Linked DNA regions of Homo sapiens. The protein of the gene in region 1 binds, or shares a complex with, the protein of each later gene. Each region holds a gene or a part of one and is shown on either strand. Other genes may lie near its edges.

The links. The genes of interacting proteins can lie anywhere in the genome.
Region 2: the proteins of SETDB1 (region 1) and UBE2E1 are in contact, whole or in part, in a crystal structure (PDB 8IYA), measured with the Homo sapiens proteins. Residues at the interface, in NP_001138887.1 of Homo sapiens: Glu868, Gly869, Tyr870, Glu871, Ser872; in NP_003332.1 of Homo sapiens: Asn125, Ser126, Gln127, Val129, Cys131, Leu132, Lys136, Asp163, Pro164, Leu165, Val166, Gly167, Ser168.

The regions. Positions count from the first base shown.
Region 1 is NC_000001.11:150,950,354-150,957,379, reverse strand, and holds part of SETDB1 (histone-lysine N-methyltransferase SETDB1), read right to left. Parts: intron 6,923-7,026; coding exon 6,290-6,922; coding exon of another isoform or gene 6,286-6,289; intron 6,016-6,285; coding exon 5,899-6,015; intron 1-5,898. UniProt on the Homo sapiens protein: Histone methyltransferase that specifically trimethylates 'Lys-9' of histone H3. H3 'Lys-9' trimethylation represents a specific tag for epigenetic transcriptional repression by recruiting HP1 (CBX1, CBX3 and/or CBX5) proteins to methylated histones.
Region 2 is NC_000003.12:23,808,945-23,815,970, forward strand, and holds part of UBE2E1 (ubiquitin-conjugating enzyme E2 E1), read left to right. Parts: intron 1-1,509; exon of another isoform or gene 1,510-1,531; coding exon of another isoform or gene 1,532-1,584; intron 1,585-2,515; coding exon 2,516-2,566; intron 2,567-7,026. UniProt on the Homo sapiens protein: Accepts ubiquitin from the E1 complex and catalyzes its covalent attachment to other proteins. Catalyzes the covalent attachment of ISG15 to other proteins. Mediates the selective degradation of short-lived and abnormal proteins.

The DNA.
Region 1 (7,026 bases):
TATTCTATCCTTAAAGCTGCCCTAATACAGGTGGTGTTTTTTCTTTTTGAGACACAGTCTCGCTTTGTCGCCCAACCTCCGCTTCCTGGGTTCAAGCGATTCTCCTGCCTCAGCCTCCCAAGTAGCTGGGATTATAGGTGCATGCCATCATACCCTGCTAATTTTTGTATTGGAGACAGGGTTTTACCATGTTGGCCAGGCTGGTCTTGAACTCCTGACCTCAGGTGATCCACCTGCTTCGACCTCCCATTTTTTTTTTTTTTGAGTCATGGTCTTGCTCTGTCACCCAGACCATAGTGCAGCGGCACAAACACAGCTCACTGCAGCCTTGACCTCCTGGGCTCAAGTGATCCTCCTGCCTCAGTCTCCTAAGTAGCTGGGACCACAGCTGCATGCCACATGCCCAGCTAATTTTTAAAACTTTTTTTGTAGAGACAAGGTCTCATCACATTGCCCAGGCAAGTCTGGAACTACTGAACTCAAGCCATCCCCCCACCACGGCCTCCCAAAGTGCTGGGATTACAGGTGTGAGCCACCATGTCTAGCTTTTTTTTCTAACTTTAAAAAAGATTATTTCCCATGTCGGTAATCCCAGCACTTTGGGAGCAAGACTCCATAGCAAAAAAAAAAAAGAGATTATTTCCCTGGTGGTCTAGTGGGTAGGGGGAAATAAAAGATTATTGAAACGTAATATACACAGAGGAAAGTACACGTAAGTCTATACAGATCAATGAATTTTACAAACTCAGCATACCATGTAACCTGCACCAGATCAAGAAACAACTTTGTTAGGTCCCTTAAAACCCCACTGGGGACATGGGGGTGTTTATGTTAATATCCTCTGTTTACAGCTGATCAAAAAAGATCAGCTCAGTAGGGGCAGGGCTGGAATTTGAACTCAGGTGTCATTATTACCACATGAAACCTTTACAGTAGCTATACTATCATTCATTCATTCCACAAAATTTAAGTGGTTACTTTTTTTTTTTTTTTTGAGGCGGAGTCTCACTCTATTGCCTAGGCCGGAGTGCAGTGGTGGGATCTTGGCTCACTGCAACCTCCACCTCGCGGGTTCAAGTGATTCTCCTGCCTCAGCCTCTGGAGTAGCTGGGATTACAGGCGCCTGCCACCGCACATGGCTAATTTTTGTATTTTTAGTAGAGACGGGGTTTCAACATCTTGGCCAGGCTGATCTTGAATTCCTGACCTCGTAATCCACCTGTCTCGGCCTCCCAAAGTGCTGGGATTACAGGCGTGAGCCACTGCGCTTGGCTTTTTTTTTTTTTTTGAGACGAAGTCTCCTTCTGTCGCCCAGGCTGGAGTGCAATGGTGCAATCTCGGCTCACTGCAACCTCTGCCTCCTGGGTTCAACCAATTCTCCCATCTCAGCCTCCTGAGTAGCTAGCACTACAGGCATGTGCCACCACGCCTGGCTAATTTTTTATACTTTATTAGTAGAGACAGGGTTTCACCATGTTGGCTAGGCTGGTCTCGAACTCCTGACCTCAAGTGATCTGCCCGCCTTGGCCTCCCAAAGTGCTGGGATTACAGGCATCAGCCACTGCACCTGGCCTAAGTGATTACTATGTGCCAGGCATTGGGTAAACTGGTGATACAATGGTTAGCAAGACAAAGAGACAGATAAGATCCTTGCCCTCATGAAGGAGCTTATATAATAGAAAAAAAGAAAAACAAGTCAACAAAAGTTGTCATAAATGCTATAAAGAACACAAACATGGTGCTCAATGAGAGAATTAAGGGAGTAAAATGACCTAGTTTTAAAGTGGTCAGGGAAGGTCTCTCTGAGGAGGTGACTTTACAGCTGAAAGCTCAAGGTTAAAGAAGATAGCCACACAAAGAAAAGTGGAAGGATGCCAAGAAGAAGGCACAGCATGTGCAAGTCTCCAGAGGCAGGCTGGAAAACACTGGTTGAACTGGATCCAGGAACTGAAAAATATCAGTGTGGTTGGAATGACTTTGGAGGGAGACAGGAAAGGGCCAAATATATAACCTAAGGTTAAGAGTCAGAATAAAATCCAAACAGCAGAGGGACTATATTATAGAGTTAAGCAGGGGAGTGATATATTATTTGTGATTATTTGAAAATATTTTTATGAAACATTTCAAACGTGTAAAAAAGATATGAACACTCATGTACCACCCAGCATTATCAAATCTAAACGCTATTGTTAGATTCAAAATTTTGTTAATAATTAAAACATACATGATACAGCAATGCAACTAAACAACTGTCTATTCCTTTGTTTAGTTTTTCAATGTTATCAGTACAAATTCATCCTATGATCTCCCCAGTAGTCTCGATCTCCTCTGAATGTATTCAGGCACCTCAGGTTTTCTGTTAAACCAATTTTCCTGAAGAAGTCGCTCCTACAGCATCTGACCTGCTCCTGCAGTGGCTCTTCTCTATGCCTAGTACACAGCTGTCAGCCTGGAAGCCTCTTTCACTGCACTGTCACCTGTCTTCCCCTTTCCTGCCTTTCCCTCTCATTTTTGCAAATATTTCCAGAAACTTTCTGAGAAGGGGAATGATGAAAAACTCTGAGGTACTGCATGTCTAAAAAAATGTATTTAGCCTACTGTAACACCAAATTGATAGTTTGCCCGAGTTTAAAATTCCAGGTTGGAAATAATTTTCCCTTAGAATTCTGAACAGATTCTCCAATTGCTATCTAGCTTCTAGTGCTACTTTCAGGGAAGGCTGAAGTCATTTCAAGTCTATTTTTTAACGTGTTCTATTTCTCTTCTCTAGAAGCTTTTAGGATTTTTTTTTCCCTCAGTGTTCTGACATTTTATGATAATGTCTCTTAATGGGAACCTACCTTTATCCTTCATTATGTTGGGACCTAACTGGCCCTTTCAATTCAGAAACAAAGATCCTTCAATTATGGGACACTTTCTGAATTATTTCACTGATGCTTTTCTCCTCTGTTCTGTTAATTATGTATTCTGATCACTAGGTTTATTAGTTCACGTGTTTATATATACCAGTTTACCATGCTATACCCCACTCTTTTGTTGTCCTCCTCTTGTTTTAGAGATAAGAGTCATGCTCTGTCACCCCAGGCTAGAGTGTAGTGGTGTGATCATAGCTCACTGCAGCCTTGAACTACTGGGCTCAAGTGATCTTTCTGCCTCTGCCTCTCAAGTAGCTGGGACTACAGGCATGCATCTACCATGCCCGGCTAATTTTTTAAAAAATAATTTAGGCTGGGCGCGGTGGCTCACGCCTGTAATCCCAGCACTTTGGGAGGCTGAGGCAGACGGATCATGAGGTCAGGAGATAGAGACCATCCTGGCTAACATGGTGAAACCCTGTCTCTACTAAAAATACAAAAAAGTAGTCAGGCGTGGTGGTGGGCGACTGTAGTCCCAGCTTCTCGGGAGGCTGAGGCAGGAGAATGGCGTGAACCCGGAAGGCGGAGCTTGCAGTGAGCTGAGATCACGCCACTGCACTCCAGCCTGGGCGACAGAGCAAGACTCCATCTAAAAAAAAAAAAAATTTTTTTTTTAATTTTTAAATCATTTTTTTTGAGACGGAGTCTTGTTGTGTTGTCCAGACTGGAGTGCAGTGGTGCAATCTCAGCTTACTGTAATCTCTGCCTCCCAGCTTCAAGCGATTCTCTTGCCTCAGCCTCCCAAATAGCTGAGATTACAGGCGTGCACAATCACGCCTGGCTAATTTTTGTATTTTTATTACAGATGGGGTTTCACCATGTTGGCCAGGCTGTTCTTGAACTCCTGACCTCAGGTGATCCACCCACCTTGGCCTCCCAAAGTGTTGGGATTACAGGCATGAGCCACCGCGCATGGCCAACAATTTTTTTTTTTTTTTGAGATAGAATTTTGCTTTTCTTGCCCAGGCTGGAGTGCAATGGTGCGGTCTTGGCTCACTGCAACCTCCACCTCCTGGGTCCAAGTGATTCTCCTGTCTCAGCCTCCCAAGTAGCTGGGATTACAGGTGCTCGCCACCATCCCTGGCAAGTTTTTTGTATTTTTAGTAGAGATGGGGTTTCACCATATTGGCCAGGCTGGTCTTGAACTCCTGACCTCAAGTGATCTGCCTGCCTCAGCCTCGAAAAGTGCTGGGATTACAGGCGTGAGCCACCACGCCCAGCCCCAACAATTTTTTTTTAGACACAGGGTCTTACTATGTTGCCCAGTCTGGTCTCAAACTCCAGGCCTCAAGTAATCTTTCGGCCTCACCCTCCTCAGTAGCTGTCCTCAACCTCATGCTGGTTCCACCTCCTCTGCTCAACCTTTAAATGTTGGGGCACCCAGGGCTTACTCCTGAGCCGCCTTCTCTATTATCAACATTGTCTCTAGGTGAACTTATTCAGGCTTTAAATACTCCTGTGCTGATGATTCCTAAATTTTTATATCCCACTCTCTCCAGAAATCCCAGTGTCTTCTTGACATTTCTACTTGGATTGCCTGACAGGCATTTCAAACTTTTTGTTTTGTTTTGTTTTCTGAGACTGAGTTTCGCTCTTGTTGCCCAGGCTGGAGTGCAATGGTGCGATCTTAGCTCACCACAACCTCCGCCTCCCAGATTCAAGCAATTCTCCTGCCTCAGCCTCCCGAGTAGCTGAGATTACAGGCATGCGCCACCATGCCCGGCTAATTTTTTTTTTTTGTATTTTTAGTAGAGACGGGATTTCTCCATGTTGGTCAAGGCTGGTCTTGAACTCCCGACCTCAGGTGATCCGCCCGCCTCAGCCTCCCAAAGTGCTGGGATTACAGGCGTGAGCCACTGCGCCCGGCGGCATTTCAAACTTAACATGGCCAAAACAAAAACTGAATTTCACTCAAACCTACTACTCCTTCGGTCTTCCATCTCAGTAAAAAGCACCAACAACCACTAAGATGCTCAAGCCAAAAATTTAGGAATTGTCCTTGATTCTACTCTTTCCCCCCACTCCATAATCTATCCAATTCTGTAGCTCTACCTATTAATACAGCCCAAATCTATCCTTCTTACCTCTACTATCACCTCCATTCTATTGCAAGTCATAGCTGCAACAATGTCTCTCTCTGCTGTACTCCTATAACGATCTCCTAATTGGTCTTCCAAAATCTACTTTTGCCATCCTAAGACCTATGATCTACAAAGAAGCCAGAGTAATCTGAAAAAGGCAGGTCACATCACTTGGCAGCTTAAAATCCTGTAAGAGCACCATGAATTTGATTCTAACTTTTCTTTTTTTTTTTTTAAGGCAGAGTCTCGCTCTTGTCACCCAGGCTGAAGTGCAGTGGCATGATCTTGGCTCACTGCAACCTCTGCCTCCTGGATTCAAGCGATTCTCCTGCCTCAGCCTCCCAAGTAGTTGGGACTGCAGGCACCCGCCACCACCCCCGGCTAATTTTTGTATTTTTAGTAGAGACAGGGTTTCACCAGGTTGGCCAGGCTGGTCTCAAACTCCTGACCTCAGGTGATCCACCCACCTTGGCCTCCGAAAGTGCTGGGATTACAGGTGTGAGCCACTGTGCCAGCCTGATTCTAACTTTTTTCATTCTGATTTACAAAGCCCTATGTAATCAGGTCCCTGCCTACTTCTCCTCTCTGAACACATTTCACTTACAAGTGTAAATCACAATCTGTTAAGACATTCATTTAGCTATGAAATTAAGATAATCTTTTTTTGCAACAGAAAATTGCTAGATACTATTCAATCATTCTATGTCTTCATTTCAAGGAAGGTCCAAGAAAAAAAATGTGTTTTGGAAGTCATGAAATAAGATCTAATTAATAAAATGCCTCATCTGGTATTCTATTTTTGGTTCCAATTTTTAGATTTCTGATGATTTCTATAAGCACAGAAAAACAAGAACATGCTCCTCAGTCTCTCTGAGGTACTGTGCCATTCCTTGACCACTTACCCTGTGGGTAGACACTCTTCTAGTCTCTTGTACTGGTAGCCAGAGTTAGGGTTGATTTGGCCTCCTGGGGTACAGGCTGTAGCCTGGATAGTTAGTTGATGGCAGGCACACTTGGACCTATATGACAGAGGGAAATAAAGGAAAGGAGCGGGGGGATCAGAGAACAAAAATAACACAATACACATGTACCCAAGGTTGCTCAGTGTGGCCATGTCAGACTCCAGCCTCCCTACCTCATAGCTTTCATGGAGGCCTTATAGCAGGAGTTCCAGGTGAGGGAGGAGGTAAAGGAAGATGGGGAAAGCAGTACAGATACAAGGCAAAGGAAGAGGTGAAACAGACACCATAACAAAGTTGGAAGCAGGGGCAGCAATTCCCCCCACCAACTCACTTGTCCCGACACCCATCCTTGCAGTCACAGCCAACCAGAAATTCAGGGCCTGTGTTAATGAAAACACCCTTGCCCGGGATACGTTCCTTGCTGTAGGCCACCTGGGGTGGAGGGGTTGTGTCAATCTCATTGACACAGGATAGGGGAACATCTTCCTTCCCATAAGTGATGTCCAAAATATAGTAAAAAGGCTTATAGGGCTGAAACTTTCGGTCCACAAGAACATATGGATCCAAACAGAACATCTCCAGGAAGAGGAAGTCACAGCCAGTCTCGAAAAGGTAGCGTTCTATCTCCTGCATTGTCCGAAGGCAGAGACCACAAGGTGTCTTATAGATAACATGAAAGCCCATCTTGCGGTTAACTCGACGCCGGGCTGTCATCCGCCGGAAGTCATATAGTAACGGGACCAGCAGAGGGTTCTTGCCCCGGTACTGCTCATTCCTCATAGGTCTGACTCGAGACAGACAGGTATAGCTGCAGACATGAGGTAAGTAGAAAAGCTTCTCCATGGGAGCACGGTAGGAGGGCTCTGCTGGGGCCCGCTCCAGCATGCCATGGAAGACTGGGGGTGCTGGAGGGGCCGGGAGTGCTGAGGGTGCTGGGGCAGAGGCTGTGGAGCCTAAAGGTGATCTGCAAATGAGATGCAAGTGATCAGATCGGAAGGCAACAGGACCTCTGTTTTATAATTAACCCTCCAGGTAGCTAAGCCATTTCTCTCATCTTTCAAACAGCTG
Region 2 (7,026 bases), on another chromosome or scaffold:
ATATTTGGGGGTAAAGACACAGGTATCAAATAGAAAATACTCTGCTTTTGTTGTGAGTGAATTACAGAGAGGGGGATTTTTTTCACTAGACATACTTTGTTTATTTTAAACAAGTTAAGAATTTATTTGGAAGTTCTGGAAAAGAGATGATAGGTGTAGAAAAATGAAAGGTGGGAAGCTACAAATAGTAATTTTACCTATAAATTAACATCAGGGCTTTTGTTTTGTTTTTGCAATGAATTTAGCTCCTTGATAATCTTGCTGAAAGAGTAGCTATTAGTGTTAAAGCAGACCTAAAGTTAATAGAAAAAGGTAAAAAAATGGAGAGGGACAGTGTATCCAGGAAAGAGAATGGGGAAAATTGATGTTAGTGGGACCCTATAGAGGCTGTTCTGTGAAGTATATTGATTTGGAAGGTAGGTGTTGCCCATAGAATTGGAAGGGGCACATTCACCAGGAGTAGGAGTGAAAAAGAAGCCTGAATTGGCAGACTAACAGGCTGCTAACTGCATGTTGGAAAGTGGTTTCTAAACCGTGGGTAGAGGAAAGCCCCCATTGCAAGTGGTCTGAACAAGAATGACTCTCTGGAAATAGGTATGAGTTACTCCTGCAAATCTCTTGCCAGTTTTTTGGAAATGCAAATGCTGTCTGTCAAGATGAAGTTGATAAAGCTTTTTGGTATTAACGCTTCTTAGGTATTAAAGAAACAACTACCTTTTTTTGTGACTATTTTATAGTGGGAGTTGGGTTGGCAAGGAGGACTGAAGTCAATATGTATTTTTATATGCGTTGTGCTCCGGGGAGGAAATTTTTGCCTACGTGTGTAGGTCTTAAAATACAGTTATTTGAAAAGATTCAGGTAAAGAATCAGGAAACCAATTTTCCAAACTTTGAGTCTAATGTACAGTCATGAGTCAAACAGCGGGAGTATGAATGTCTCAGAAATGAAACGCTTTTTGATAGTAGAATTTAGCAGGACACAAATACGTGTCAATTGAGATTGTGAACAAACCCCTTTCTAAAGTTGACAGATACGTAGGGACAGGAAATGTCCTCCAGTAGGAAGGTTTATAGAACCTCCCCCAGTCGTCGTCCTTAAAACCTGTTCCTCATTACATATAGCTCGTCCGTCCTCCTACCCGCAGAAAACCTTTGGAAAGGAAAACGTATCCTTTGTGAATTAGATTGCTCTGTGTGTGTGTTTAAAATTTTTTTAACTACAGTGCTGCCTCGGTGAGATTTTTAAGTTGTAACATAGCCCCATTGGGCTTTATATGATAGGAGGAGGAAAGGTTATAAAATTAGGCACCGTTTAGAAGGTGGAAGAAGCTTAGAGGCCCTAAACTGTCGTATTAATTGATGCTCTAAGTGCCTAGGTAAGCAAAAGACAAAGGCCAGGGCTTGGTGTGAACTGCCTGGTGGCTTCGGCCTATGAGTGGGGGATGGGGCCCTTTGTGAAGTCGAGGGTTGGTGCGGAGGGAGAAAACTGCAGGTCTCCAGTCTATCCCCAGTGTGAGCTAGAGAGCGGACCATGAAGGAAGTGGGCAGACCCCGGGAAGTTAGAGGACGCCCGGGGAAAAGCAGGTCCGGGGAGGTGGGCCGAGAGTCCCGGCCAGCGTGCGGGGCGGAGGCAGGGTCCGGTGCACCTGTGCGGCCGCGGGCCGGCCACTTGGGGTCTGTGGTGCCCGAGTGGCGGGCGGGGGTGTTCGCGCCCTGCTTTCGCGCGCGGTCTCGGGCCAAGGTTCTGGGCGCCGGGAGAGGAGAGCTGGGGCGGCGCGGAGCAGCCCCCGTGCGGGCACCCTGTTCCCCTCCCCCGCCCGCAACTTCACCGGCGCGGCGCGAGCCGTCGGGGGCGCGCGCGGGGTGGGGGCGGCGTGGCCGGGCGGTGGCAGCCCACCGCTGGGGAGCGACCTGCGGTCTGGGCCTCCCGGGCACCCCGCCACGGCTGGCAGGTCACTCGGGCCCGAGGGGCCTCGTGGGGAGCGGCCATGTTGGCTTCGTCACTGAGGACTCCGGGCGGGTCGGGTGTTGAGCGAGGCCTCGGACCTTCGGCCTGTCGGGGGCGCCCTGCCGGGGTGGGCATGGGGGCATCTGAGGGGTGAAAGGGGCAAGGGAGGCTGGAGGCTGGCGTCCTTCCCACGCACCGATGGCTGTGATCTCTCCGTGCTGGGGAGAGGTGCAGGGGAGGGACTGAGGAAACCGGTCGGCAAGTGAGAAACTTTAAAATTAGGTCCTACATGGAAAACACCGAGGAATAGAACTGCCCTGGTGTGCGAGGCAAGGTTGGAAGCCAAACTTTGCAGATGAGAACAGGAGATTCCAGGCTGCCTCACTTCCTCCGTGAAAAGTTTTTTTCCTAAACTAGGGACCTGAAGTTCTTGATGTGTAGTTCCTCTTTGCCCAGTAGAATCCAGTGATCGCGCTTAGGTTTATCTGCAGACCTGCACGCTACAGGTGGGAGGCTTCCGCGCCTTAATGCTTCTTGTGTTTGTCTTTCCCATTTCTCCCACTCCAGAATTCAGAAGGAGCTGGCGGACATCACTTTAGACCCTCCACCTAATTGCAGGTGAGTTGCTTTTCGGATTTTTTCCATTTTTAAAATTCTTCTAACCTTTGTCTTGGGTTTTTCTTTTTATTATATACTTTTTCTTTGATTCTTTGGCTAATGCTTGTTATGGCACTAACATCACGTAACAGCTGAAATTTATTAACCTGAGTATAATGTTTTGATGAGCCTCTGACAAGCTCAGTACTGTTGAGAAGAAGTAATGGATTTATTTGGAGTGGATTTTTACATATATGAAACAAAACTAAAGTAAATTTAAAGGTGTCTCCTTGCCTAATCATGGGTCTTTGATATGCCATTAAAGATGATGTAAAACCTTTCAGATGCGAAGGACATTTTGGTTTGGAAAACTGCTTTGCTACAGTAATCTCTTATTCAATCTCTGCTAAGCTAAGAGAACATTAGAGTTAAACACTGGATCTTCAAACTTACTCCATAGCATATAGATTTTTTATTAGACTTTTGGCAGAGCAATTCAGGAAACAATTTCTGGCTTTGATAAAGGTTTTCTTTTAAATTGTAGAGTTAAACTTTCATGGGGTGTTTTTTTCACTTGCTTTATTCAGACTGTATACATATGTGTGTTTCAGTTTCAAAACAAATTGAAACCAGCTTTCTAAGGGTTTGTTGATCACAGCTTTATTTAGAGAAGCCATTTTGCTACTGTTGAGTCAAGGTGGAAGACTTGATGACTTTACTAGATCAACAATGAAGTGAGGGTAACTTACAACTATGTATTAGAATAGAACCATTTATTTAAGGGAGGTCCTGTAACTCCCATACTTTAAAAATTAAGTATAACATTTAACCTAGTTCTCAAGATCGGCGTTGGAAAGGGATGTGAGATTTCAGAAATACTCTAAACTTATTGGTAGGAGTAGAAGTTACTGACAAAGTATTCAGCGGCTATACACAATTTTTAAGATGAGTGTGTGGGAATAGGTTGAAAAGCTAAATGAAGTATTTTGTTTAGTAACAGTGAACTTTGGAAACTAATTAGTGGATTAAATACAAAACTATTGCCGTTTTGGTTACATTCATTCTTAATGTTGATTAGGTGTGGGATGCTCTTCCGTGAAACTTTGTCCTGTTTTGTAAGGAAAGTCATTTTGAGTTTGAAATGCTCTTAAACTATAGTTTATAATTGGAACACTTAATCATTCTGGGGAATTCTTTCCTGGCTAATAATCTCTCAAGATGGTTGAGAAGTGGAAAAACCATAAGACTTAGGCCTAACTCATTATTTTGATGGTGGTGGTTCACGTGGAAGCCTGTAGCTTCCCTTGGTTGTTTGTGTGGAATCCATGTACATTCCCCAAGGTGGTTCTGTGCTGTCTAGTTATTGCTCCTGCTTGGTATTGTGTGTCTCCTATGTGTGTGTTATTAATAACATTGATTAAAACATATAATGGCTTTCTTGTGAATAAGCACAGTCAAATCTAAAATTGTAAACCATTTGAAGATTTTCATGGGATTAAGCATTTAAAAAAAAAAAACAGTGTAAGTACACTTCAGTTTCACATCGTTTTAACTGAGTTTATGTGTGAAAGATTTATGCTCCTGAGGCATGTGGAACTTTTTTATCTTTGGGAAACCCTCCCAATTACCCCTTCAAGGTGAAACGTTTGGGAATTACCTGTGGTCAGGGGATGCACCAAACTGGGTGGCTGTTGGGTGATTGGTGTTACGGAGTCAAAGCTCAAAATACTAAATTTTAAGAAAAATCTCTGATTTGAGAGAAAATACGAGGCATCTTCATTTTGCAAGAGAATGTATATTACATTGTCTTTTAACAATAAAGATGACTTTATTTTCTGAAGATATTTTCCAGTGGGGCCGTTTGAGTAATGTGAATTAAAATTTTTACTTTTGGTTGGCTAATGGTGCTGTCTTAATGTTATATAGTAGTCCCAATATTCAGCTCTCTTAAAAGAGTTCGGTTTTACGTTTTGTGCTGTTACCTTTTGGAATTTAATTATTTAGTATTTTAATGTACTTTATTGGAGATAAAGATGGATTATTTATTTATTTATTTATTTATTTTCTTTTTGAGACGGAGTCTTGCTCTGTAGCCCAGGCTGGAGTGCAGTGGCATGATTTCGGCTCATTGCAACCTCCACCTCCCGGGTCCTGGTTCAAGCAATTCTCCTGCCTCCTGAGTAGCTGGGATTATAGGCACGTGCCACCATGCCCAGCTAATTTTTGTATTTTGGGTAGAGATGGGGTTTCACCATGTTGGCCAGGCAGGTCTTGAACTCCTGACCTTGTGATCTGCCCGCCTTGGCCTCCCAAAGTGCTGGGGTTACGGGCGTGAGCCACTGCACCTGGCCTTGGGGATACTTTTTGAAGTCAGCGTCCAATGAAAATCTATGAATTAAGTGATATATTAAGTGCGTACATGTTTAAAATTACCCTCAGCATGAAAGCATGAGATTTGAATGAGTTAAATAATTGGTTTTCAATTAGTCTGTCTTATATTTTTACCCTTTGCCATACTTCCTTTCTTCAGTCAGCATTCAGTGTGTAGTTTTAAACACGTTATTAAAATATGGCACTTGGCACATAGTAACTTCTCAGTAAATACAAAAATTAGCCGGGCATGGTGATGCACTCCAGCCTGGGCGACAGAGTGAGACCCTGTCTCAAAAAAAAAAGTTGATTATTGCAAATCAGTAGAATTGCTCCTCTTGAAGGAAGGTGCACTGTTTGTGTTCACTAATTTTGGCACTTGGCAAAAATATTTGAAGTTACTGAGCATCAAAACTTATGTGAAATGCAATTGCTCAATATGTTATAATGTATGAAAACATAAAATTAAATTCTTAATGTTGTATATTATGTTGGGTGGATATTTTTTAGAACACAGTACAGATTGTGTTCAATGACCTGGTCCAAAGTCATTTTAAGTAAGTATTTTCAAACTGCTTTATGTTGCCATAGAAATCAAATTCTTAATTTTAGTATCTGTGATTTGTGTGTGTGTGTATATATATGCATACACACACACACAAAATAGTTTCCCAACTCACTCTTCATTTTGGTTAGGCTTTTATTCCCATATCATTTAGCTCTATTCTTTTAGGGAAAAAAATATGTTAACTTTGTAATGATTCCCTAAAGCGTGCCAGATCTTAGATTGTAAAATTATGCCTTTTAGATAGCTGATGAACTCTGGGCCACCAGAGTCAGTTTTGCAGCTGTTATTTATAGCCCAGGGCTCAAACTTTGCTAAATTGACTAGTTATAACTAGCCTGTAGACACGAATATCTGTAGACAGTATGTCTATACAGACTAAATGGCATATTTTGCCTAAGTCCTTTAAACTTCAGATTTTATTTAATGGATATATTTGTTTCATGAGTAAATGTCTCAGTGACTTAACCTAGAAATTCAGATGGGGTGCTATTTTAGGATAAAATGTCTGAAAAGTCATTAAACACTTCAAGCATGGGTGAGAATAATAAAAATACATTTCTTTCTTTCTCACTTTTTTTTTGAGACAGGGTCTCATTTTGTCACCCAGGCTGGAGTGCAGTGGTGCTCACTGCAGCCTTGACCTCCTGGGCTTAAGCTGTCCTCCTGCTTCAGGCCCCCAAGTAGCAGGAACTACAGGCGTTCGACACTACACTCGGTTAATTTTTTGTATTTTTTTGTAGAGACCAGGTTTTACCTATTGGCCAGGCTGATCTTAAACTCCTGGCCTCAAGCCGTCCACCCACTTTGCCCTTCCAGAGTGCTGGGATTACAGGCGTGAGCCATGGTGCCTGGCCCTGATACTAGTTTTTCTGTATGTGACAGAATTTCCATTTAGCCTTCTTTTGATAGCTTTTTTTTCCCTAACACTGCCTATATTTTAAATAGTTTTAAGCCATTATATTATACAAGAATGCATGTTTTTGAAAAATTCAAATACAGAAGTTTGTGGAGTAAAAGGCAAAAGATAGTCCTGATGACCTCTTCTGATCCTGCTCCTTGCACACAGATGCTCCAAGTTAGCACTTTGTATACTTCCACGTAGTTTCTGTGAATTTACATTGTGTTTTTCTGGCATTCCAATACCTCCTCGAATTGGTGGTAATGGTAATGAGATGTCAGTTCAGAAGTCCCAGGCTGCTCATCATGGTTCACAATGGAAAGAGATCCTTTTCTTGCAACAGTGGAGTGTTACATACCTCGTCCAGGTTCAGCATGTTTTAAATGGTTGTTTGGGTATAAGAAATAGGTTCAGCAGAAGTCATCCTTTATAAAACCCTGTATCTTATGTGCTAAAAAGTATTCTTCCTTTTAGCATCTTTCATTTATCTGATGTTACTAAATGCGTTAAGGATAGAAGTGTGACTTAAACATCTGAATGATGTTTAGTTTCACCATTGCAGTGTGTATACCTTTATGCATGTAAAGGCAGTGTTGAAAAATTGTGACAACCAGGAGACTGGGGTTTCAGCACGATCAAAACAGC